7 linked regions of the Homo sapiens genome follow. The protein of the gene in region 1 purifies or fractionates together with the protein of each later gene. This does not show direct contact. Each region holds a gene or a part of one and is shown on either strand. Other genes may lie near its edges.

The links.
Region 2: the proteins of ARGLU1 (region 1) and CLK3 purify together in Homo sapiens (affinity purification with mass spectrometry; one large-scale study listed by BioGRID and IntAct). This does not show direct contact.
Region 3: the proteins of ARGLU1 (region 1) and NCBP3 purify together in Homo sapiens (co-immunoprecipitation; 2 studies listed by BioGRID and IntAct, with this or other methods). This does not show direct contact.
Region 4: the proteins of ARGLU1 (region 1) and VANGL1 purify together in Homo sapiens (affinity purification with mass spectrometry; one large-scale study listed by BioGRID and IntAct). This does not show direct contact.
Region 5: the proteins of ARGLU1 (region 1) and VANGL2 purify together in Homo sapiens (affinity purification with mass spectrometry; one large-scale study listed by BioGRID and IntAct). This does not show direct contact.
Region 6: the proteins of ARGLU1 (region 1) and MYB purify together in Homo sapiens (co-immunoprecipitation; one large-scale study listed by IntAct). This does not show direct contact.
Region 7: the proteins of ARGLU1 (region 1) and ACIN1 purify together in Homo sapiens (affinity purification with mass spectrometry; one large-scale study listed by BioGRID and IntAct). This does not show direct contact.

What each region holds. Positions count from the first base shown.
Region 1 is NC_000013.11:106,544,138-106,547,637, reverse strand, and holds part of ARGLU1 (arginine and glutamate-rich protein 1), read left to right. Parts: intron 1-3,477; coding exon 3,478-3,500. UniProt on the Homo sapiens protein: Dual function regulator of gene expression; regulator of transcription and modulator of alternative splicing. General coactivator of nuclear receptor-induced gene expression, including genes activated by the glucocorticoid receptor NR3C1.
Region 2 is NC_000015.10:74,618,836-74,622,335, forward strand, and holds part of CLK3 (dual specificity protein kinase CLK3), read left to right. Parts: intron 1-361; coding exon 362-513; intron 514-1,173; coding exon 1,174-1,390; intron 1,391-3,284; coding exon 3,285-3,381; intron 3,382-3,500. UniProt on the Homo sapiens protein: Dual specificity kinase acting on both serine/threonine and tyrosine-containing substrates. Phosphorylates serine- and arginine-rich (SR) proteins of the spliceosomal complex.
Region 3 is NC_000017.11:3,804,953-3,808,246, reverse strand, and holds part of NCBP3 (nuclear cap-binding protein subunit 3), read left to right. Parts: 3' UTR 1-3,294. UniProt on the Homo sapiens protein: Associates with NCBP1/CBP80 to form an alternative cap-binding complex (CBC) which plays a key role in mRNA export. NCBP3 serves as adapter protein linking the capped RNAs (m7GpppG-capped RNA) to NCBP1/CBP80.
Region 4 is NC_000001.11:115,658,970-115,662,469, forward strand, and holds part of VANGL1 (vang-like protein 1), read left to right. Parts: intron 1-671; coding exon 672-804; intron 805-3,500.
Region 5 is NC_000001.11:160,417,564-160,421,063, reverse strand, and holds part of VANGL2 (vang-like protein 2), read right to left. Parts: intron 2,063-3,500; coding exon 1,455-2,062; intron 1,120-1,454; coding exon of another isoform or gene 1,071-1,119; exon of another isoform or gene 666-1,070; intron 654-665; coding exon 517-653; intron 13-516; coding exon 1-12. UniProt on the Homo sapiens protein: Involved in the control of early morphogenesis and patterning of both axial midline structures and the development of neural plate. Plays a role in the regulation of planar cell polarity, particularly in the orientation of stereociliary bundles in the cochlea.
Region 6 is NC_000006.12:135,187,808-135,191,307, forward strand, and holds part of MYB (transcriptional activator Myb), read left to right. Parts: intron 1-26; coding exon 27-98; intron 99-1,983; coding exon 1,984-2,076; intron 2,077-2,319; coding exon 2,320-2,540; intron 2,541-3,500. UniProt on the Homo sapiens protein: Transcriptional activator; DNA-binding protein that specifically recognize the sequence 5'-YAAC[GT]G-3'. Plays an important role in the control of proliferation and differentiation of hematopoietic progenitor cells.
Region 7 is NC_000014.9:23,088,637-23,092,136, forward strand, and holds part of ACIN1 (apoptotic chromatin condensation inducer in the nucleus), read right to left. Parts: intron 1,998-3,500; coding exon 1,886-1,997; intron 1,466-1,885; coding exon 1,346-1,465; intron 1-1,345.

The sequences.
Region 1 (3,500 bases):
TAGCATGTACACAAGGAACTTTCTTTTTTTCATTTAACAGTGTAACTTGGAGATTTTTCCATTGCGGAACATAGGGGCCTCCTTTTTTCCTCTTACTTGTTTTTAATGGCTATACAATATTCTCCTTTATATATCTTCAGTAATTTATTTAGTGTACCCCATATTGGTGGATATTTGGGTTTTTTTCACATTCTTTTCTTTCTATAAACTGTGTTGTAATATGTAACCCTGTAAATATATCAGTTTCGCATGGGTGCAAAATTTGCACATTGCTGTACAAGTACATAATGTAAATTCCAGAAAATGTACTTGCTGGCATAAAGTATTACGAAGATGTAATTTTGATAGTGTGAGAGTGCTCTTTATATGATAGCATATGTGTGTTAGTCCATTTTTTGCTGCTCTAACAGGGTAATTTATAAAAATATTTGGCTCAGGGTTCTGGAAGCCGGGAAGCCTAAGAACATGGCACAGGCATCCCATGAGGTTTCCCCATGGTGGAAGGCATCACATGGCGAGCAAGCTAGACAGAGAGGGCCCTAGAGAGAGAGAAAAGTGGTGGCCAGACTCGTCTTTTTATCAGGAGCCCATTCCCATGGTAACCAACCCACATCCCACTCGGGTAATAACAGAATTAATCCATTCATGAGGATGAACCCCTCATGGCCTAATCACTGCTTAAATGCCCCACATCTTAATACTGTTAACAATGCCAGTTAATTCTAACAGCGACCTTTGGGGGACATACTGAAACCACAGCAGTGTGCTGTCACACTTTGAATTTCTGTCTTCTAGGGTAAAAAATGGTATATTTGTAATGTTCATTAGATTTCTCTTATGGATTAAGGTTGTGATGTTCTTTATGTACCCTCACTCTCCAGGGCTCTAGGATGCTTTCCTAGGGTTGAGTTAGAACCTTAGAAGAAAGTGAATCTGAGTATTTATATTGATAAAATGTTTCTTAGGCACACACACACATCCAAAGAACCCTTACTACATCTTGATTCAGTTGCACACACTAAGCTCTTACCCCAAATTTGTGATGATTTATTAAAACTGGATAAAGTGATTGGCATATGAATTCATTAATGATGACCGATAGCAGGCAGTTCTTTTTGTTGTAATATCAGTGAAAGCCTAAGGAAGAGAGTGGCTATTTGAAATAGATTCTGATGTACAGGTAGGATTTCCATAGAAGGAAAGAATGGCATGAGCAAAAGACGGGGGAACAAGATAGAAAGGAGAATTTAGAAGAGGAGTAGAAACAAAGCTGGAGCCAGGTTATAGAAAATCTTGTCTTAGAGAAACATTATACTTTAGGAAGTTAAGCTGTATGCCATGGACAGTGGATATCATTGGCAATTTGAGAACAAGAAAGAGTGAGCAGTGGTCAAGAAAGGTGAGTCTGGCAGTATCGTGTAGGATGGATTGAAGGACACACTGGAAACGGGCACCATTTTAGATGTACAAAAGATATGTGGCCCTAAACTGATGAAGCTGGCAAAAGAAATGAAAATAAACTCTAGGCAGAGAATATAAAACAAGAAGTAACAAACTTGACTGAAGAAGGAAGAGATGAAATAAAGCTATAGAATTTGAGTGGCGGAAGGGAAAGTGTAAAGGGCAGATTTATTTTAAGGATAAAGTGGAAGAATTTAAATCTTGAAACATGTTGAATTTTGAAGCAAGTCCTAGGTCTCCCAGGTGGATGTGTCCAGTAGCCAGGTCTAAATGTAGCATAGGAAAAAGGTTTTAGAGAGCTGTATCTTAAAGATACATTTTAGCTCTCTGTTGGATTTTCCACCATGCTCACCTGCCAGATTCTCTCACTGCTTGTAATTCTGATCTTTGTTATCTCCAACCTTACTTGACTGCGGTTGATTTGTTCCAACACCTATCTTTTAGTCTACGTCACATTGCTGTCTAAACTTCTTTGCGTTCTTCCCTTTTTGCTACTTAAGATAAAATCTCAACATTTTTTATTGCATACCGGAGTCCTGTTACCTTTTCCATCTTCCTCTGCCATAAATGCCTGTAAACCAGTCACTTTACACTTTATTTAAAAAATACATATATATCAATGGAGACAAAAGAAGTAATTAGTGTGTGGCATTAGAGAATGTATCAGAAGAGAGAACGTTTTTAAAAGACTTAAGTGAACAGAAGAATTTATTTGAATAAAGAGAAAAATCACTGAATTTGATAGATTTTGACCATACAGAAGAAAATTTTAGTAGAATAATGGAGATGGAATCAATGACCTAAAATTTGACTTTGAATGGGAATAGGTAGGCAGCTCAAAGGATGCAGCGAATGTTTTAAGATCACTGTCAGATAGAGGGGAAAAAGGATAAATCATGATAACTGATATTAAAAAGGGTTAGAGCAGGCTTTCTCAATTTTGGCACTGATTGGATCATTCTTTGTTGTGGGAGCTGTCTTCCATATTATAGGATGTGTAGCATTGTCCCAGTCTTCCACCCACTAGATGCCAGGAGCCATTCCCAGTTGTGGCAGCCAGAATCATCTCCATGCATTGCCTAATGTCCCCTTGGGGAAGGGATTAAAATTGTGCTTGGTTGAGAATTGAGAATTGAAGATGTGTGTATGGTATCTCTAGGAAGCATGAGAAGGGCCTGACTTTGGTAAAGAGGGGGAAATCTGTGGAAGAATGCGGGAAAGAAGTTGCTTGACATGGAAGGAGTTGAAGGCACTGCAGGAGTGGAATCAGTTATACCAGTGTCCTTTTGAAATTAGATAGCACTTTATAGTTAGTCAGGTCAGAAGGTTTTGTAATATTTTTCTTCAGGTAATTGGGTCTGTCGTGTTTCTTGGTTGTCTACTGATACTATAATATAGTCCCTTTTTTTTCAGCATGATTTGACCACACAAAAAGCCCCAGTGGAGATTTTTTCCTATGTTTCTGTTTTTTTGTGTGTGTGTATGCCCTTCAACTATAAATATGGCAATTGGTAGATAACCTGCTCTTTGAGTAAATCTGTACCTCGGTTTATAATTAACAATCTATTAATCTGGTACAATGAAGTTAGAGATAAAAATAGGTATAGAACAAAATCTGTCATCTCAACATGTGATTTGTGGAAATTAATTTCCACTTCCAAAATGTGTAAATGCTTTTCCATAATTTGTTCATTTATTTTCATTGAAAATGAAAGACAGAAAATGTAGATGTAATTAATAAAGGGTTCTCTTTTAATTTTCTTAATTCTTTTTTCTCTACCAAACTATGTGACCTTCGTCAGATTTTATGACACATGCCATTGTGTGTAAGTTGTCACCTCATAACTAAAATATTTTGAAGGCATGTAATTCATAGGAAGTCCTTGTTTTTACCCCCTTTTTTGCATTTGCATTAAAAATTTTTTTGTAGATACATAATAGATAACACCTGTTGCAGGGGTACATATGATAATTTTTAATACATTTCTATAATTAATTTTTACTTTTAACTTTCAGGCCGAAGAACAGTTGAGAATTGT
Region 2 (3,500 bases), on another chromosome or scaffold:
GGAGGCTCCCCTTTCTCCTGCCTTTGATCTCCCTGTGGTAGTGTTCACCGTCCCCACCCAGGGTTACTGCCTCAGCCCCTGGCCCTGGCTCACCCAGTTCCCTGAGCACCCAGGCCACCAGGCTAGTGATGCTCTGCTGGGAGCTGTTTGTTTGTTCACTGGCAGAGAAAGTTGTTTCCTATTGTCTGCTGTTTGACCAGTGTGACCTCAGAGTTCTTCTTCACTTCATAAACCTCTGGGAGGGGCCGCCTTCAAACAGAACAATGGGCCTCTTCAGGAGCAACCGGGAAGCCCCAGCAGCCCCATGGCTGGAGGTGGCTGGCTGTGTGTTTAGCAGGGCTCTCTGTTCCTCGTGGCCTAGATGCATCACTGTAAGCGATACCGCTCCCCTGAACCAGACCCGTACCTGAGCTACCGATGGAAGAGGAGGAGGTCCTACAGTCGGGAACATGAAGGGAGACTGCGATACCCGTCCCGAAGGGAGCCTCCCCCACGAAGATCTCGGTCCAGAAGGTGAGAGGGAACTAGATAGGAGGGAAAGACTCCTTCTGTCAGCTGGGCTCAGCTGTGGCAGCTCCAGACTCCTTGAGATGACTCCATCCCTGCCCAGCTGTCCCTGGATCCCTGCCCTGTCCTCTTTGGGCTCCTCCACTAACCTCACCTGCATGCCTTGGCCTCAGCAGTAGCTACCATCCTTGCCGCCCACTCTTTCTCTGTCTTGGAGTGCCTTTTCTTCTCCCCACACATTCCCCCATTTTCTAGGCCAGCATCTTTCCGCTTAACCTCCTAAGCCTTCCTTGGTGAGGATTAGGAACATAACCTCACCCCTGGAAAGTTTGCTCCCTGGGCCTATCTTAGCTCCCAGGTCAAACTTAGAGTTGCAGCAGGCCACAGGGAACTCTGGAAGGGTATAGAACCCTTGGAGGCACTCTACCATACTCCCCTTCCCCTGTACCCCTCCTCCTACAGCTGGAGGATGCTGTCGTTGGACAGGGCTCTGGAGGGCGGGCTTAGTACCTTTGCACCCTCCCCTCTCTGCCCACTTCCCACCAGTGTGGATGCTTTTAGCACAGGCTGTCCCCCTTTAGCCCTTTACAGTGGCCTTACCACAGGTCTCTTGCTTGCTAACAGCAAGGACCCAGCTGACCAGCGTCCCCATCCCCCTTTTGGCAGCCATGACCGCCTGCCCTACCAGAGGAGGTACCGGGAGCGCCGTGACAGCGATACATACCGGTGTGAAGAGCGGAGCCCATCCTTTGGAGAGGACTACTATGGACCTTCACGTTCTCGTCATCGTCGGCGATCGCGGGAGAGGGGGCCATACCGGACCCGCAAGCATGCCCACCACTGCCACAAACGCCGCACCAGGTCTTGTAGCAGCGCCTCCTCGGTGAGTGGTAGCCAGAGTGTGCTGGCTGGGGCTTAAAGGCCTCATCTCTTCCTAGCCTTCTCTCAGGCTGGCTGGTCCGGGTGAGTACTGCCAGCCCTGTGCACGTGCACTGGTGTGCGTGCATGTGTGTGTGTATGTGTTGTCTGGTCCAGGTGTAGGGCTGATCACAGGGTCCTGGCCTCTGTGTCTTCTGGCTCTTTCCAGTGGCAACTGTAGGAACTCTGGCTCCGATGCTGGCTGGCCCCTGGCCTGTCTATGTCTACACAGTGCTCCAGACAAAGGCCACGTGGTGCAAGTGGCTGGGGACACTTCTTAGGACACTTCTTAGGGATCCTAGTAGAGTGGCTGGTATGGTGGTCTGCAGCTATATGGCCTGGTCCTTCCCACCCAGAGACTGCCTCCTCGTGTAACTGAGTGCTCTGATGTGGACTGCACCCACCTCTGCGTCTCATCTGCACACCCCTTCCCAAAGGCCCCCAGTCTGGAGTGCCTCACAGGACCGGAGGATTTGCCTGTCAGCCAGCTCAGACTGGGAACTTCCCTTCTGATCTCCAGCCAGGCCCTCTCCAGCCGAGCCTCTTTACGAGGGGCAGTCGCGGTGAGGAGGGGCAGGTGCCTGTGTGATGGGGCATGTGAAGAAATGGCAGAAAGGCTGCCGCCCCAGGCCTCGTCCAGTTGCAGGCCACATGCCCAGAGCAGGGCCTGGCCAGTATTCCTAGCATGGAGGGTTGTAAGGTCTCTGGAGCCCACATTGCGCTCAGTCCCCTGGGGAAGCAAAGCCAGTTGTGTATTTCCGAGGTTACGTGCGGTCTTCTCTTCTCCCCCATCCCTCTTCCCTGCCTCCCTCCTGCCGGCCTTGAGGCCCCTGAGGAGCAGTGGAGAGGCCAGGTGTCTTCTCTGCCCAGCGCTTTCTGTGACTTCTTTGAGTGGCTACAGGTTGAGGGTTGACTGTGCGGGCGATTGCAGCGTGGCCCTTTCACCTCTTTGCACACTGCCACATGCTGCCACAGGATGGCAGTGCAGGTCTGGCTCTGTTTCTCTGTTTGGTGCCCTCTATCGATCGTCGTGAGGCTTGGGATGGGCCTAGATTGTGAGCAGCATGGGTGCCAAGGCCAGGGCAGGAGCTGGCATGGGGCCTGTGTGGGCCATTGTGGTAGGAAGCCTGGCAGTCGACTGGCCCAGAGGATCCCAGGCTGCTTTCCTTCTTGAGGCTGGTGGCAGGAGGGCTGCTGACGGAAGGCTGTTTCTGGTAGTGATGGTGAAATCTGGCCAAGGATGCCGTCTGGAGGCAGGTAGCAGCTTGGCTGTGAGTGGCAGCTGTCAGGCATGTGCAAGTCTGCGTGGGCGAACAGAGGCAGGCAAGGACAGGCTGGGCATTCTGCAGCTGAAGCCGGAGCAGCCGCTGACCAGTCTGGATGGTTGGACCCAGGCGGGGCCAGCTGCCTTCTTGCGCCGCCGTTCTCACTGCATCTTCCGCTCTGGCCCAAAGCCACATGGGAGGGTCTGGGAGGGAGAGACTCGGAGGAGGAGGAGGAGGGAGTCGGGGCGATGGCTCTCCTCACAGCGTGGCCCTCAGCAGCAGAGGCAGGTCATCTTCCTGAGCGTTTGTGGCGCTCCTCTTAAAGATAATGTCCGAGTTTTCTTTACATACCTGTAGCTGTTTTTACTTTTCTGTTTTTGAAGTCAGTTTGTGTCTTGACGTGTCCCTTGCAATATCCCTATCGTTATATATGCTGTGTGCCTTATGAAATGCTGGGATCTGGAAAATCCAACCAACCAACCCACCGGCTCCTCACCGTCTCCACCTCTGCCTTTGACTGACACCTCAATCTGTCAATCGGAACCGCCTACCATGCGATTGGTCGGATGGCGTTTCGGGGGGCGGTGCATGCAGAGAAGCCAACAGAGCAGTAAGCGCAGCAGCCGGAGTGTGGAAGATGACAAGGAGGGTCACCTGGTGTGCCGGATCGGCGATTGGCTCCAAGAGCGATGTACAGCCACCTTTCGTAAAACTTTACCTCTCTACTTTCTACCCCCCTTGTTAGACGAGACCTCTCCTGCCTGGAGGGGCCTCTAGTGCGCGTGGTGCCTTAGCGGGGCCACCAGTAAT
Region 3 (3,294 bases), on another chromosome or scaffold:
TGGTTGAGTACCAGGTGAAGTGATTGGCCTGCAGTTAGGGCTGTGTTGTGCAAAAATCACTTGTTTTGGGGTGTTAGAACCACATTTAGGCGAGAAGATCACTTTTGGGGAGCTTGGGAACTGAGGCAGGCCGCAGGTGCAGCAGAGGCATGAGCTTGCCCGGGCCCGCCCTCTTGTCTATGCTCATGGAGTGAAGGAGGGGCCAGCGGAATGGCCCAAACAACTGATTTGTTTTTCTTTTTTTAAATCTTTTTCAGACAAATACCATTGTGTTTAAGCGAAATGTGTGTATAATGCCAAATCACTGTACCCCACAACCCTGCACACCTCTACACTGGACTGTAATTTCTTGTTCCTAGTTTGTCTTGCTAGACTGTAAGCTCCGTGAGAGCAGGGACCGTGTCTGCTTGTTGAGTGGGCTTTCCCCTGTGCCTGCCAGCATGCCTGGCATCTAGCAGGTCTTCTGTAAAGATGGGATGAGTTTGTAAACCCTCCAGCCTCAGGAGTGGCTCCATCCTCTGAGGCTCTGGGGCCCTCTGGCAGGCTAGTCATTTTTCTGCCATGTACGTACAATGCTTTATTTTCATGTTGTATTTTCCTTTCTAGCCAGTAAGCAAGCTCCTAATGAGCAAGTTTCTTTGTGGTGTTATCTCTGTATCCTTTCATCAGGCCAGCCCAGAGTAAGTAGTGCTTCGAAAGTGTTTGGTAAATGAATGAATTATGGTAACCCAGCCCAGTTCTGGCATCACTGTCTGCAGGTTAGTCTAATTCCAGATGAAAGCCCCAGATTCGAAAAAGGGAAGATTATTCAGAAGTGCATATGGTTGTATAAGAAAAAAAAATCTCATTAAATAGACCTGAGTAAACTTCAAATTTTGATGATCTGGCCATGTCGGAGCTGAAGCTTACCAGCTCTCTAAAGCATTTGCTAGGGAATCATGCAGATGGTCCAAAATATTTTTTAGAAAAGCATTCATCTGTCCCGGGATAGAAGTAGAGGAAGCTGGTAGGCAGGCGCTAGACCCTAAAGAAGGACTGCTGAGCCAGTTCTTAAGCCTGTGGTCCTGTCGGTGAGGAAAGTGAGAGCAGTCCAGAGCAGGTGAAAAGAGCAGAGCTCATTCCTCCAGTGGCTCTTTTGCCTAAAGCAGCATTCCTCAAACTTCTCACTCGAAGCATTAAGTTACGGTGAGATGCTAACACACGCTTTAGACTTAAGTCAAAATTTACTGTGAAGCCACAGCAAACCATGGCTTCACAGATGAATTAGTTGCTACACAAATAAGTTCGATACATAAGTACAGTAATTGCTTTTAAACCTTATAATAAGCAGTAAATTAGAAGTTAAACCATGTTTTTCTTTTACGAACTGAAAGAAGAGAATGCTTTTGATACTGAGAATCGCACACTGTGTCCAGGAAGATTGTTCTTGCATAACCAGACCCACAATAAATATCTACAACTTTTCTTACATGTTTATAAAATAAATCTTAGAAGAAAAATATTGTAGCTTTTTTTTTTTTTTTTTTTTCAATGAAGCTCTATGAACATTTCACAGAACTTTGTTCCTGGGAGTAGTTAGGGAAATGCTGCTTCAAAAAGCCAATTTTAAGTAGTTGTGAGGCATCCGAGTGGAATTTGGCTGCACTATCCATAAAACTTGAGAGTATAGGCGGTATTTCACCTACCAAGGTCAGTACCCTGCCTCAGGATTCTTACTGTTCATTTGAGCAATTCCGGGGCCCTCTCTGGATGACCAGGTTCGTAAATAGTTGAGACTTTGTGTTATCTCAAATTGTCACCATCACCTCTGGGCCAATATAGGTTAGTGAGGTCGAGAGGCCCACACCATTGACAGAAGAGAATTCTCAGGCCGGGCTTGGTGGCTCACGCCTGTAATCCCAGCACTTTGGGAGGCCGAGGCGGGTGGATCACCTGAGGTCAGGAGTTCAAGAGCAGCCTGGCCAACATGTTGGAACCCCGTCTCTACTAGAAATACAAAAATTAGCTGGGCGTGGTGGTGGGTACCTGTAGTCCCAGCTACTTGGGAGGCTGAGACAGGAGAATTACTTGAACCCGGGAGGCAGAGGTTGCAGTGAGGTGAGATCGCGCCACTGCGCTCCAGCCTGGGCGACAGAGCGAGACTCCGTCTCAAAAAAAAAAGAAAGGATTCTCACCTTCCTGTCCCTTCCTAGGAGTTTTGTGGTAGTGTTCGATCCTGTGATGTGGCCATCTTCTCCTCAGGGCCTGTGAGAGGCAGGCAGCATCTTTAGCTGAGGTAGAATGCCTGTTGGGGAAAGTCAAATAGGATGGTGGCTGGGGCCGGGGCTCTGGGGACTCCTTCTGCCCCACATACTCAATTGGAAAGACTGAGCAAGTCCCCTCACCTCCCTGGGCCTCAGCTTCCCTGTCTGTCAAATGGAGGGCTCAACTGGGGTGAGCTCCAGTTTCCTTCTAGTGCTAACGCGTGTTCAAGGATCCTTGCTCTCCTTTCCGGGGAGCATCAGGGGTGTGGGCTAGATAGCAGGAAAGAAGTAGGGGTTTGTAAACAAGAGATCCAAGCCCCTGGACCCTTGGTCCCAGCACCCAGTGCAGCCCTCGCCCTCCCAGCCCCTTCCTTAGAAAGGACAAGAAAATCCACTCCTTGTTCTCTCCCTGTCCCATCACCCCCGCAGTCCCCCACAGATCTGAGGCCGGAGGATGCCAACATGGTGAGCACCCTCTTGCTGTCTTATTCACGTAGGCTTTTCTTGGTGCCTGCACATGGCTCTTGTAAGGCCACCAATCTTGCTGGATTATGACCTCATCTAACCTTAATTACTTCCTAAAAGCCATATGTCCAAGAAGAGCCACATTGGGGGTTAGGGCTTCAACATATGAATTTGGAGGACATTTACAGTTCAGTCCACAGCACCTGGTCATGTGGAGATCCCAGTCTGCATTTGTGGGATGAAATCTCTGCTTTTTTAAAGTTTACACACCACCTAGCTGGGCACGTGGCTCACACCTGTAGTCTCAGCACTTTGGGAGGCCGAGGCGGGGATCACCTGATGTCAGGAGTTCGAGACCAGCCTGGCCAACATGGTGAAACCCCGTCTCTACTAAAAATACAAAAATTAGCCGGGTGTGGTGGCGGGCACCTGTAGTCCCAGCTACTCGGGAGGCTGAGGCAGGAGAATCGCTTGAACCCAGGAGGCAGAGGTTGCAGTAAGCTGAGATTGTGCCACTGCACTCCAGTCTGGATGAAAGAGCAAGACTCCATCTCAAAAACAAAAATAAAAAAAGTCTACACACCAA
Region 4 (3,500 bases), on another chromosome or scaffold:
CACATCCACCCACACACCCTCCACCCCTCTTGGTGTCTTTGGCCTTTTTTCCTAGCTTGTTTGTTTCTATGGGTGTCTTCAAGTTCAACTAGAACCTATGGGAATGACTTAGTTTTGAACCTGTAAGAATGAGAAGTAAACAATTCTTTGTACTGACTTTGAATTTCCTTTCTTCTGTTGTCCAAAGGTGAAGGGTGACAATGTGTCCCAGATTTTTTTGGATATTCTACAAAAAAATAGATATTTTTTTGTAGAAAAAAGCTTATTCTACAGTGTTGTCCCAATTTTAAAAGCCCTAGAAAACTGGTTAAGGCAAATTATAACCAAATCAAATCACTAATTATTACAATAAAGTGTAACTAGCTACAAAAATCCTAAAATTACAATTTTAGGCTTTGAGAAAATATCACTGATGATAGAGGAAGAGTGACAGTCTTTGTTTTGGGTCTTGGGATGGCAGAAAGAAAATATTTAGTAGGGAGTAAAGATCAGTGTACCCCTTGAAGTGTGGTGAAGATGGGTGGGTTTTGATGCTCTGTGTGTGTGTGTGTGTGTGTGTGTGTGTGTGTGTATGTAGAATTTCCCTAAATTCAAAATGATACTTACATTTTGATAAACCCAGAGAGTTAATTAACATGGCATAAATGTGCTAGCTCATTGTTGTTTTTCAGGGAAAGAACTAGAGAGAGACACAAGTCACCCCGGAATAAAGACGGCAGAGGGTCAGAAAAGTCTGTCACCATTCAACCTCCCACTGGAGAGCCCCTGTTGGGAAATGATTCTACTCGGACAGAGGAAGTTCAGGTAAGGATCAAAGGTGGTCTGTAAGCACACTGCCACTTGGCCAAGACTCCTGTCTGTAAATGTTTTCCTTAGGTTCTCTTGGATTTTTGTCTTTATTTTTCTAGCATGCTAATTAGTTTATCTATGTCCCATGGTCTCTTGTTGGTCTAAGGACAGCCTGTCCTGCCCTTTGGTAGCGTGGGGATTCTTCTGAAGTATGATTGGTTGGCCTGCTTTACATGGTGTGGAAAAGTAGCCAGCAAGGTTGACGACAGGGTTGGGAAGGGAAAAGCTGAAGTCTCCCACGACTCATTTCAAAATGGAACAGTATAAGGGGGAGAAGGAAACTCAGAAAACCTAAGAAGTTTAAAAAACATGGGGCAGCCCAGACTGACCATTACTACTAGAGCTATGCAGGAATTGAGAGGCCGCACGCTCAGATGCCTGGTAGAGAAACGTAAGTTAATTAAGGAGGCCCTGGGTCGAAAAGAGGGGGCAAAAATATATTAACCTAGCTTTGGGTTAACAGCAATCTGTGCAGTGCCTCAGTGTCAGTGCTGTAGTGTGGTGTGAAGGAGCCTATGGCTAACTGGAGAATGCATTTCCTCTGTAAAGGAAACAGCAGCTCCGCAGCTCCAGACACCTACTGTTGCTCAGGAATGCAGGGATTCATTGTTTGAGAAAAGCTGCAAATCAGGATTTTATGTGGAATCCTAACTTTACAGTATTTTTGAAATACTGATACTTTATTAATTTTTTTGAACCATTGAGTGGGTTCTTCTCCAGGTTCCAACTGTCTGGCAGCCCACCTGATTTAAATAAACATCTGAGCTATACACAGAAACATGTCTGCATACCCTCTGCACATCCTGAAGTATATATACACATGTCCAGCCTTGCCCCTCATAAACAAAGTGGTGTATGATACACAGCTGTAAAGATAGATATAGGACTATAGATAAGCATACATCTGTACATACCTGTGCATACACACAGGTAAGCATTTATAATCAAATAGGTGGACTGAAACTGGAATTCCTCAGAGTACACAAGGTGTTCTTGGGACACAAAACTACAATTGTGGGTTGAACGTGGGATTCATTGAGCAATGAGCAAATGCCTTTAGTGCTGCCTGCCTTGGCTCTGGGATGGCTGATGGTCGGATGGGGCCAGTCTTAGGATTGGATCACCCTGGAGTACTTGAAGGGGTCAGTTTCCTCCTGGATGTGGGTTCAGAGGTGCCAGTGGCCTACAGCAAAGGCTCTTCTTTCTCTGCATCTCCTCTGCACCTCGTAGCTGAGAACACTTTGAGAAGCTCTTGGTGTTGCCCCAGGATGATCTGGTGTGAAAAGCATTGAGATGGGTGTTTGGAGGCTGTATTTTTTAGTAGCTCTGTTACCTTGAGCAGTCACAGCCTTTGTAGGCCTCAATTTCTTTATTGAAAATCTAGGGGTTTTGATGAAAGCATCTTAGGTGCTTTTTCTTCTAAGAACCTGAAGCTTAACAGGATCCTTTGTGTATCTACATGTTTTAGGCATACATGTGCACCCCAGGAAATTCTCTCATGCCCTTTCTAGTCAATCTCTGCCCCACCCTCACCTCTCCAAGGCAACCACTGTGTTGATTTCTATCACTGTAGATCAATTTTGCCTGTTTTTGAATTTAGTATAATTAGAATCATATGGTCCATCTCCTGCCCCCACCCACCCGCCCTGCTTAGCATAATGATTTTGAGATTTATCCATGTTTTGGTATGTTTCAACAGCTTATTCTTTTTATTTTTGCTGAGTAGTATTCCATTGTATCAGTCTACCACAATTTGTTATCCATTCTCCTAGTGGATGGACATTTGGGTTTTTTTTGTTGTTGTTTGTTTGTTTTTTGAGGCAGAGTCTTGTTCTGTCGCCCAGGCTGGAGTGCAGCGGCATGATATCACCTCACTGCAGCCTCTACCTCCCGGGTTCAAGCGATTCTCCTGCCTCAGCCTCCCGAATAGCCGGGATTACAGGCACGCACCACCACGCCCAGCTAATTTTTGTATTTTCAGTAGAGATGGGCTTTCACCATGTTGGCCAGGCTGGTCTCGAACTCCTGACCTCAGGTGATTTGCCTGCCTTGGCCTCCCAAAGTGCTAGGATTACAGGCGTGAGCCACCGTGCCTGGCTGGATGTATATTTTTATTAATTTTTGGATAAAACCTGAGAGTGGAATTGCTGGGCCATATAGCTAAGTGTATATTTAGATTTATATGAAACCGCCAGAGTGGTTTTCCAGAGGCACTGTACCACGGTCCACTTCCACCAGCAGTGTTGGAGAGTCCTGGCTGCTTCTGGCCATCGTCTGAAATAGGAATTTCTCTCACTGTAGGTGATACTTCTGACTTTGCAAGTTGAAGGATTATTAGTTTATGGGATTGAGACCTTCACCACCACCGCTTCTTACCATAGCCCATACATTTCATAAATCATGGTTTTTTTGGTCATTACTAGATTCGGAGTTATTTGATGATGAGCGATGTCTGTCTTGCTGATTTAGCTACTAACTGAAACTAGCTTTTTCTAAGTTGGTGTCCTAATTTCACCCCCTTTGCCACTGCATCTGACTGTTTTCTTTCCGAGTGAAAGGATACATACAAATTTCAGAGGCAGAAACCTCTTTGGCCTCCTGTGTCTTTTCAGCGCCTTGCTCTTATTGCTTCATTATTGTTGCCAGTTGTT
Region 5 (3,500 bases), on another chromosome or scaffold:
TGGTGCTGTTTTCTGCACAGGAACAGGATAGAGGAGATGGTCACATCAGAGTGTGGCCTCTCTTCCCACTCCAGGAGCTCTGGAGACAGCAGCCTGACATGTCCAGAAGAAGCTGTTCCCACCACCCAGCAATACCTCCTAATCCCAACCCTCCTGGCCACCTCTGGGAGAGGCCATAGGAAAGCAACAAGGAAGGCACTGGAAGCGCAAGAGTCCTGCAGTTGTTCCTCCCCAGTGCAGGGGGTTCTGCAGCTCCGAGAGCCAAAGGGCTTAGACCAGGGCTGATGAGAGACACAGAGGAGCCAGATCAGGGGACATGCCATAGCATAAAGGGACAGCAAGTAGGATGAGCAGCTAAGATCAGCCACCTGGAGTCAAGGGAAATGACTGAATAGAAGCGGCTAGAACATGGGCTAAGGAAAGGAAAAAGCAAGGGACAAAGGGTAAAAGAGAGGCGGGAACTTGGAGTCCTGCTTGGGAAGAGACAGGGAAGGGCAGAGGAGCAGGGCTGCTCACCCTCTCCGAGGGAATACACCTTGAAGCCAGACACTTTCTTGGCCAGGACGGACTTGGGCAGGTTGAGGAGGGCAGGGTTGTAGACAGGGAAGTCATGGTAATACTTCTCCAGGATCCACACTGCCACGCGCTGGATGCTGTGGGGGAGACGGCAGGAGGGGGTGGGAGAAGGGACAGACCAAGGGGCACAGGGGAAAGGGACACATTAGGGCAGGTTGGCAGGGCAGGAGAGGACACAGGACAGGGACAAGCTGCTTCCGAGAAGCCTGACTCCGGGCCTGAGGTCTACTTACCAGGCTCCCAAGCCTTTCCCAGGGCTGGGCCTGCCAGTCCCTCCCCACCATGCCAAAGCCTAGCAGAGAAAGGGCATTGGGCCTGGGTCCCCAGCCAAAGATCACCTCATCCCCATTCAGCGTTCCCCCAAGATCCTCTACAGGACCCAGGACGTGCCACTGATATTCTGTGTGGCCTCGAGGGGTAGCTTGTTTACTGGGAGCTGAAGAACTCTCCTCCTTATCTCTTTCTCTGGGGATCCCTCCTCTGGCCAGGTCACTTCACAGGCCACTCTGAGTGCTCACAAGAAGCTGCGCCTCCCAGAAAGGACTAGAAAAGGGATTCCAAAAAGCCCCTGTTTGTGCACCCCCCCATATTTCTTCCCTTTGGTCCATCCCCCTCTAATATTCCCTACCTCTAAATGCCTATTCATTCCCATCTCATAACTCCCAACTGATCTTGCCCCAAGACCGTGTACATGAACCTGCCTATCAAGCAGCAAACATTGGTGAAAACCTACTTGGTGCAAAGTACTCAACTCCCTCCCACACAACCCTCCAAGCCCATCACCTCCAGCCCACCATCATACCCTCCCACCCTAGCAGTCACTCCACATCCTCCCATGCCCTTTCCCTCCCAACCCTTCTCCAGCCGTGGGCTAGTACCTGAGATGGCCAACGTTGTAGAAGCGGCTGGCGCCGTCGGTGGAGCGCACGACCTTGAGCGTGAACTGAGGCTGGAGCTGGCGCAGCTCCAGCAGGACCACGGCCAGGTAGTGCACGAAAAGAAGGGCGTCCACCAGCGACACGGCGAACTGCACCACGCCCTGGTAGCTGCGCTCCCGAGCATCCAGGATGCGCACACCATAGAAGAGCCAGTAGGAGACCACGAGCAGGAAAACCAGCACCATAAGCAGGGCACGCAGCACAAAGACGCGGGGCAGCGAGGCCTTGGGCCGGCGGAAGAACAGAGCCCAGCTGCCCAGTAGCAGGATGAGCAGCTTGAAGGCGACAGAGATGAAGAGGCCCTCGCAGGCCGTCCCGCAAGGCTCCAGCTCCTCCCGCCACAGCAGTGGGGGCAGCAGCAGGAAGGCCAGAGGCGTGAGGAAAGACAGCAGTGCCAGGGTGGCCCCCGCTGCCACACCCAGGTGACGGGAGCAGTCCAGAGGGACACTGTCCTCCATGTCCTTGGCGATGCGTGTGAGGTCATCATGGGAGATGCTGTGCTCTGAGGTGCCCGTTACTACTGTCGTCGTTTCCCCCCAGTTGTCATCCTACAGGCAGAAGGGGGCCAGCCACACAATAAGGAGGAAAGGATAAGAAGAGGAAGAGGAGGGAAACAGGAGAAAGGGTGAGGGGACAGGAGACAGAGAAGAACACATGGGAAAGGAGAAGGCAGAAAGAAGAGAGGGTAATCAACAAATACGCAACCATCAAAGTATTTACTGAGCTCCAATGTGTGTCAAAGTCTGGCCTCTGCAGATGGCCAAATCCAAGACCCGAGCCCTCGGGGAGCTGGACACTGGTCAGTGAGAGAGGAAAAAACCACACATGCGGCAATGACCCTCAGAGCAGACAGCACAGGACAAATGCTGAAGATGCTGCTCAGGCAGTGACTGGGATCCAAGGGCAAACTCGCCAAGCAAAGCAGGCAGGCTTCCAGAAACCGTGGGACCTGAGCTGATCCTTGGGGGAAGGGGGCTCCAAGGAAGATGTTCTCAATCCCAGATGCACACATTAGAACACTTAGGGAAGTTGGAAAATAATGCTAATTATTGGAGAGTGCAATCTGCTTGTGAACCTTTAAAAAAAAAAAACAAAAAACTCCCCAGATGATTGTAATGGTCATCCAAGATTGAGAATCACTGAACTAAATGATTTCTAAGGGCTGGCTGGCTACTTAAAATGTGATCTGTGGACCAGCGGTGTGGACATCACCTGGGAGCTTGTTAGAAAGGCGGAACCTCAGGCCCACCGCATGTTTACTGAACCAAATCTGCATTTTAACAAGATCCACATGAATCACTCAAACATTAACATTAATTCTGGAAGTCCTGCTGGGCACGGTGGCTCACGCCTGTAATCCCAGCACTTTGGGAGGCCGAGGTGGGCAGATCGCCTGAGGTCGGGAGTTCGAGACCAGCCTGACCAACATGGAGAAATCCCATCTCTACTAAAAACACACACACACAAAAAATTAGCTGGGTGTGGTGGCACATGCCTGTAATCCCAGCTACTCGGGAGGCTGATGCAGGAGAATCGCTTGAACCCAGGAGGAGGAGGTTGTGGTGAGCAGAGATCGTGCCATTGCACTCCAGCCTGGGCAACAAGAGCGAAACTCCATCTCAAAAAAAAAAAAAAAAAAAATTATGGAAGTCCTATCTAAGTTCCTTCCAGCATGCCATGATTTTGGCAGAAGCTAGAGGAGGAGCCTCCAGGGCAGGAATGGCATGAACTGAGGCACCCAAGGGCTATGAGAGCAGAGGATCCCTGTGCAGAAGCACAGCAAGGTGCAACCAGGAAGGTAAGGCAGACAGCAGCCAGGCAGGGCTTGTGCAGGCCACGCTGCAGTGCTGGGCTGGGCAATAAGCACCTGTTCTCCAGGCATGGAGAGCCACTGAAGGAGTAAACCTGATCAAAGCAGCACAGAGAAGAACAGAAGACCCCAGGGGTAAAGGGGTGAAGGCGTGAAGGACACTGTGCAGACTCAAG
Region 6 (3,500 bases), on another chromosome or scaffold:
CCTAGGATTACCTTTAAATGTCTTAGGATGAAAAACTGAAGAAGCTGGTGGAACAGAATGGAACAGATGACTGGAAAGTTATTGCCAATTATCTCCCGGTAAGTTAGTAAGTTTTTCTTATAACGAAAGGAAAGCTTCTCCCAAAGATTTCTATAAAATATTCTAGGAGGAGTTATTAAGATAGTGTATAATTTACTCACATTTAAGAAGTGGGAGAAATGCCCTACCCATAACTTATATTTTATATTATAATGCATATAATTAAATTATTAGAATTTAGATTATTAGAATCGATTATTATAATTTAGATTATCAAATTTTAAAAACAGTTGCTTCTTGTTTTATCTTTTCATTTATAGGATAATTAGTATTTTGATGATTTGTTACATGGTAGTTGATTAAACTTGATATTTCCTCCAAGTCAGTTTTTCCTGAATTCCCTATTTTTGTCAATAGCAATACTTTTGGCACCAAGGTTTAAAATTCTGAAGACCTTTCTTGACTTATCACATTCCCCCAACCCCTACATCTAAGCAGTTACTAAGGACCCTGGAATTCCTTTATAGTCAGTCCCGTCCTTTTCATTCTCATGGCTGTGCTGAAGGTTGGGCTCCTGCCCTCTCATTTGGACTATCATATAACTTCCTAACTGGCTTCCCCACTTGTAGTTTTCCATTTTTCTTTCTTTTTTTTTTTTTTGTTTTTTGTTTTTTGTTTTTTGAGATGGAATCTAGCTTTGTTGCCCAGGCTGGAGTGCAGTGGCACGATCTCAGCTCACTGCAACCTCCGCCTCCCAGGTTCAAGCGATTCTCGTGCCTCAGCCCCCTTAGTAGATGGGATCACAGGTGCCCGCCACCATGCCTGGCTAATTTTTGTATTTTTAGTAGAGACAAGGTTTCACCATATTGATCAGGCTGGTCCCAAACTCCTGACCTCAAGTGATCTGCCCACCTCAGCCTCCCGAAGTGCTAGGATTGCAGGCATGAGCCACCGTGCCCAGCCAGTCTTCTACTTTTCCATTCATCCCAAACACCATTGGCAGGTGGAACTTCCTAAAATGCAGCTGTACCTTATCTTTTCAAAACCAACCACAGTGACAGAATCTCACAAATTAAGTAAACTGCCTTGACTTGGCACACAGAGGCCCTCCTCTATTGCCCCAACTTACAGCTCCAGTTCTGTTTCCTGCTTCCTCTCTCTAAGCAGGTTTGCTTGAATTTATTTCTGCTTTACCTCCTCTGGGCTTTTGCTCCTGGTCTTCCCACCTCCTAGAATATTCTCCCTTTATGTCACCAATTAAAGTTCTGTCCATCCTTCAAAGTCCTTATGAAGAGCTCTTCAAGACTCCTCCCAAGGAAACCATTTCTCCTCCTAAGAAGATGCTTCTCTCCTCACTTCAGTATCATTTTGCTTTGGTCTTTTCTTCCAAGTGAATCAAATTCAGCATCTGTGATAGTCAGTCATCTACTTGTCTTTTCCTTCTTATAAGTTTACAAACTCCTGTAACATAGGACCTATCTTTTATGCATCTTTTTTCTTTCTGCAATATAAATACTTTGGTCCTGGATTGAAGCACATCTCTTGTCTGAATGGGAAGCAAACTTTAGTCTTTTAGGGTGGTTTCCATGAAAGCCTGACAACATAGAATCTCTATCAAGCCTCAGGCTATGTAGATACTCTGCAAAAGTATCTGAGGTTAAGGTTAACTTGGCAGGCACATGTGTAGTATGATGGTCCTTTAGATCATGTGGCAGGAATGTTTCCCTCAGGAGGCAGAGTGTCTAATTTTAGATGCAACTTTGATATATTACTTGCATGTTCTGTAGCCTGTAAGTAATGAGGGATAGATGGGCTCTAAACATGCTCTAAAATGTTCTTAAATATTTTCACTGCATATGGTCTATGTGTGATTCCTATTACAACAAAAAATTCACGTGCTTATCACATCATATCTTTATGGTGGTGCATACTTTATTTGTCTAGAATCGAACAGATGTGCAGTGCCAGCACCGATGGCAGAAAGTACTAAACCCTGAGCTCATCAAGGGTCCTTGGACCAAAGAAGAAGATCAGAGAGTAAGTTCTTTCTTCATTGGTGTGTGACTCATAATTAAGAATATTCCCAAAATGCTAATATTTTCCTATTTGAGGAAGCAGGTAAAATGGGCAAACAGGAAGTAGAGGACTCTATTCCCATATTTCCAGTGAATGAAAGCAAATTTTGGAAATTTTCTAAAGATCTTGTAACACTGAAGAATGATTATACTGACTCATTACATAACTTTAAAACATAGGTTATTTTTGTGTGTTTATCTGAAGGTGATAGAGCTTGTACAGAAATACGGTCCGAAACGTTGGTCTGTTATTGCCAAGCACTTAAAGGGGAGAATTGGAAAACAATGTAGGGAGAGGTGGCATAACCACTTGAATCCAGAAGTTAAGAAAACCTCCTGGACAGAAGAGGAAGACAGAATTATTTACCAGGCACACAAGAGACTGGGGAACAGATGGGCAGAAATCGCAAAGCTACTGCCTGGACGGTAATAATATGTCAAAAAATATATTGATCGGGAAGAATGAGGGAGTGGGTATTGAACATTCTGCTTTAAATGTATGGTGAGTAAATTATATTTCATCAGTCGTAAGTGTTTTATTAGATAAACCAGCTACATAGCTTTTAGAGATTGAAGACATCTTAGAGTTTATTTGGTTGAGAACTTCCAGGATCCACCTGACAGTGAGCCCTGGGTGAAGACATTTAGCTTTCCCCAGCCTCAATTTCCCCATTTCCAAAATGAATCATACAGGGCCAGTGTTAGGATCAAGTAAAATGAATGTCAAAGGACTTGGTAAACTATAAAACTCTAAATGCATAGAAAGAAACTGAAGACAGTTTGTCTCTGGCAGTTCACGTAGCTGGTTAAGTTACTCAAAGGAACTCAGCTACCATTTTCCTGATAACCATCATTCATTTCTTTTATTTTTTTTAATTATTATTTTTTAGAGACAGAGGCTTGTTCTGTCACACATGAGTGACAGAGTGCAGTGGCATGATCATAGCTCAATACATCCTTGAACTCCTGGGCTCAAGGGATCCTCCCACCTCAGCTTCTTGAGTAGCTAGGACTACAGGTGCACCCCACTACACCCAGCTGATTTTAAAATATTTTTTGTAGAGATGGAATCCTGCTATGTTACCCAGGCTGGTATCAAACTCCTGGCCTCAAACAATCCTTTCACCTCCCAAAGTGCTGGGATTATAGGCATGGGCCACCATACCTGGCCACCAGTATTCATTTCATTATACCACTTTGCTTAATTTTTTACTTCATTGATTAAAGAAATAATGTATTTCTTGAATTCTCATACTACTTCCAGGTTTTTAAATAATGTCAGGGTAATAATGCTTTCTTTTTAATGAACAAGGCAAGAAAATGACCTCATTATGAGGGATAACTATGGAAGCTCATTTTGTCCCATTTTTCCCACTTAAGTAGTAT
Region 7 (3,500 bases), on another chromosome or scaffold:
GATTCCGCATCCCCCTCAACACTAATTATTCAAAATACTTGTTAAGTTACACATTGGTTTAACATATGTACTAACAATCCACATGTCTTATATACATATTAAGTATCCCTTTTCCAAAATGCTTGGGATCACAAGTGTTTTAGATTTTGGATTTTTGAATATTTGCATTATACTTTCTGATTCAGCATCCCTAATCTGAAAACCCAAAATCTGAAATGCTCTGATGAGCATTTCCTTTGAGTGTCATGTGAATACTCAAAAAGTTTTGGGTCTTTGGATTAGGCATGCTCAACCTGCACATATTTTCCTCAAAGTATACTGACTTAGACAGGTAGTTCCCAAAAGACAAAGGCTATATTTATAGACTTTTGCTTGAGATATTATGCAAAATTGGGTGCCTATTATGATTTTATGTATTTTTTGAGACACAGTCTCGCTCTATTGTCCAGGCTGAAGTGCAATGGTGCAATCTTGGCTCACTGCAACCTCTGCCTCCCGGGTTCAAGCGATTCTCCTGCCTTAGCCTCCCGAGTCACTGGGATTACAGGTGCCTGCCACCATACCCAGCTAATTTTTATATTTTTAGTAGAGACAGGGTTTTGCCATGGCTTTTTCACGGTTTTTCCAGGCTGGTCTGGAACTCCTGACCTCAGGTGATCCTCCTGCCTCAGCCTCCCAAAGTGCTGGGATTAGAGGCGTGAGCGACCACACCCAGTCTGGGTGCTTAATATTTTCTATAATGTGAAGAAATTAATTAATCTTGCCTGAACCAATCCCATATACTAGGTTAGAGCTCCCTACTATAATATGCTCACATAATACTCTGCGTTGCCTTGCACAGTAGCCAAAACAACTGTAACTAATGTCCATGTCCTCACTAGACTAAGTTTCTTGGGGCTGAGACTTGTTTCTTTCTTTACTATATTCCTCGTGCCTAGCATGTGCCTGGTATACAACAAGTACACAATAAAAATTTGTTGATTAAACCACAGCAGATACCCAACTCCAGAGGGTGACTGAATGTGTTAACACGTAATATACACAACTGGTGAAGAGATGAAAAAGAGCTGACTGTTGCCAAATTCAGAGGTAGAAGAGTTGAAGAGGTACAGATGAGAAGAAAAATCACACTGCTTCGTAAAACACTGAGAAGGTAACACAATATATAGGTGAAAGCAGACTTCAAAAAGGGTATACTTTCCATGAGAAACAGATGTCAAATATCAATGTCACAGAATTTCCCTGGGACTTTCATGGAGGCTTAGCATGAAAGGAGGTGTAACTACCTCCCCCCACCAACTACGCAGGATTGACAAAACAGCGCAGTGGGGAGGGAGATACGTACTGGGCGAATGTCTGCTGAGCTCCAGCTCTGGTCTCTCCAGGCTGCTCTGAAAGTCAGGAGGCAGCAGGGAAGCCACTCCCTCAGGATGGATCATCTCGTCCTCCGACTCAGCTGAAGCTTCTGCAAAGTACAGATCGGGTCGGGGCAGGGAGGGAGTGAAGGACTCAGCATGTAGGAATATGTAGAGGAGTGAAGGAGGTCAGGCAAAGTCACAGATACAGAGATACATACCAAAAAGAGCACCGTATAAAAAGAAAAAACTCCCTGGGATTCAGCTCTACTTCATCTAAATGGTAGCTTAATTTACTTATAACTCTTCCTGTTGGCAGGAATCCTCTTCTAACAAGACAGTCAAATTAAGTGTCCTCTTCCCTGACAAAAGTAAATAGTAAACCACTTGGCTTCATGGGCTATGAAAGCAAGTAAGTAGCAGTCTCAGCCTCACTTATTTCTGAAATTGTCTAGTTAGACAGGCCTATCTACTTGGTGACAGGGATAAGAATGACGAACTCCTTGTTAAAAGTGACAATCTGGGCTTACCTTCAAGTTCTGCAGCTTCTCGAGCTTCACGTTCCAGACGCTGCCTAAGTAGCTCCTGCTGCTTTTCCAGATACTGTTTTATGAAACTGTTCTGGCTCATTTCCTCACCAATCTGTGTAGAGGAAATGAAAACAGAGGGTCTAGGAAAACAAACCAGGAGAATGCAAAGAAGAACATTCCATGGAGCAAAGGTCCACTCCTTATAGTTGCGCCCAAGAAAGATAACTAAAATGTTGGAAGGCTTTTTTCTAAGTTAGTTCTATATTGAAGAACAGAATAGCCTTGAGTCACACACAAAAAAAGGGCAAAAAGAAGAGCTGCACATAAGTTTTTGATTTAAATATTCAGTTCCCAAAGAGTGATACTGGTATACAAATTACTATTCTTTATTTTTATTTTTTGAGACAGAGTTTCACTCTGTTGCCCAGGCTGGAGTGCAGTGGCGTGATCTTCCCTCACTGCAACCTCTGCCTCCTGGCTTCAAATGATTCTCCTGCCTCAGCCTCCTGAGTAGCTGGGATTACAGGTGTGCACCACCACACTCGGCTGATTTTTGTATTTTTAGTAGAGACGGGGTTTCACTATGTTGGTCAGACGGGTCTCAAACTCCTGACCTCAAGTGATCCACCCGCCTCAGCCTCCCAAAGTGCTGGGATTACAAGTGTGAGCCACCGTGCCCAGCCACAAATAACCTTAAATTAAAATTCCTGTAATTATATCTTTTAGGCTAAATTCCTAGATTACGTGGAACATTATCTAAAGGGTAATCTAAAATTTCCTTTTGGTAGTATCAAGACTGAAACATGGGGGCTCACGTCTGTAATCCCAGTACTTTGGGAGGCTGAAGTGGGAAGACTGCTTGAGCTCAGGAGTTCAAGATCAGTCTCAGCAACATGGCAAAACCCGTCTCTACCAAAAATACAAAAAGGTGGGCATATTGTGGTGTGAGTCTGTCATCCTGGCTACTCAGGAGGTGGTGGGTGCAGTGAACTGAGATCGTGCCACTGCACTCCAGCCTGGGTTAAAGAGCAAGACTCCATCTCAAGAAAAAAAAAAAAAAAAGCCAGTTCCTCCAAAAGATCAACCGTTACCTATCCAGGAAACATTTTTTTTTTTTTTTTTGAGACGGACTATCACTGTCATCCAGGCTGGAGAGCAATGGCGCGATCTTGGCTTGCTGCAACCTCCGCCTCCTGGGTTCAAGACATTCTCCTGCCTCAGTCTCCTGAGTAGCTGGGATTACAGACATGTGCCACCACAACCAGCTCATTTTTGCATTTTTAGTATAGACGGGGTTTTGCCATGTTGGCCAGGCTGGTCTCAAACTCCTGACCTCAGGTGATCTACCCGCCTTGGCCTCCCAAAGTGCTAGCATTACAGGCGTGAGCCACAATGCCCGGCCTCATATCCAGGAAACATTTTATCAAACAACTCCAAAATTCAAGTATAGTATTTAAAAGTATGAAATCAAGAGACTAAGAAAAGGGATATCCATTCAGCATTTAGACAAAGTTATAACTCCATTTTGTCTGGGTGAAAGGAAATCCTTGGTAACAGGAGCTTATGCCTTTTCCTATTTTTTTTTTTTTGTAATACAGATTCCCAAGTTGCCCTT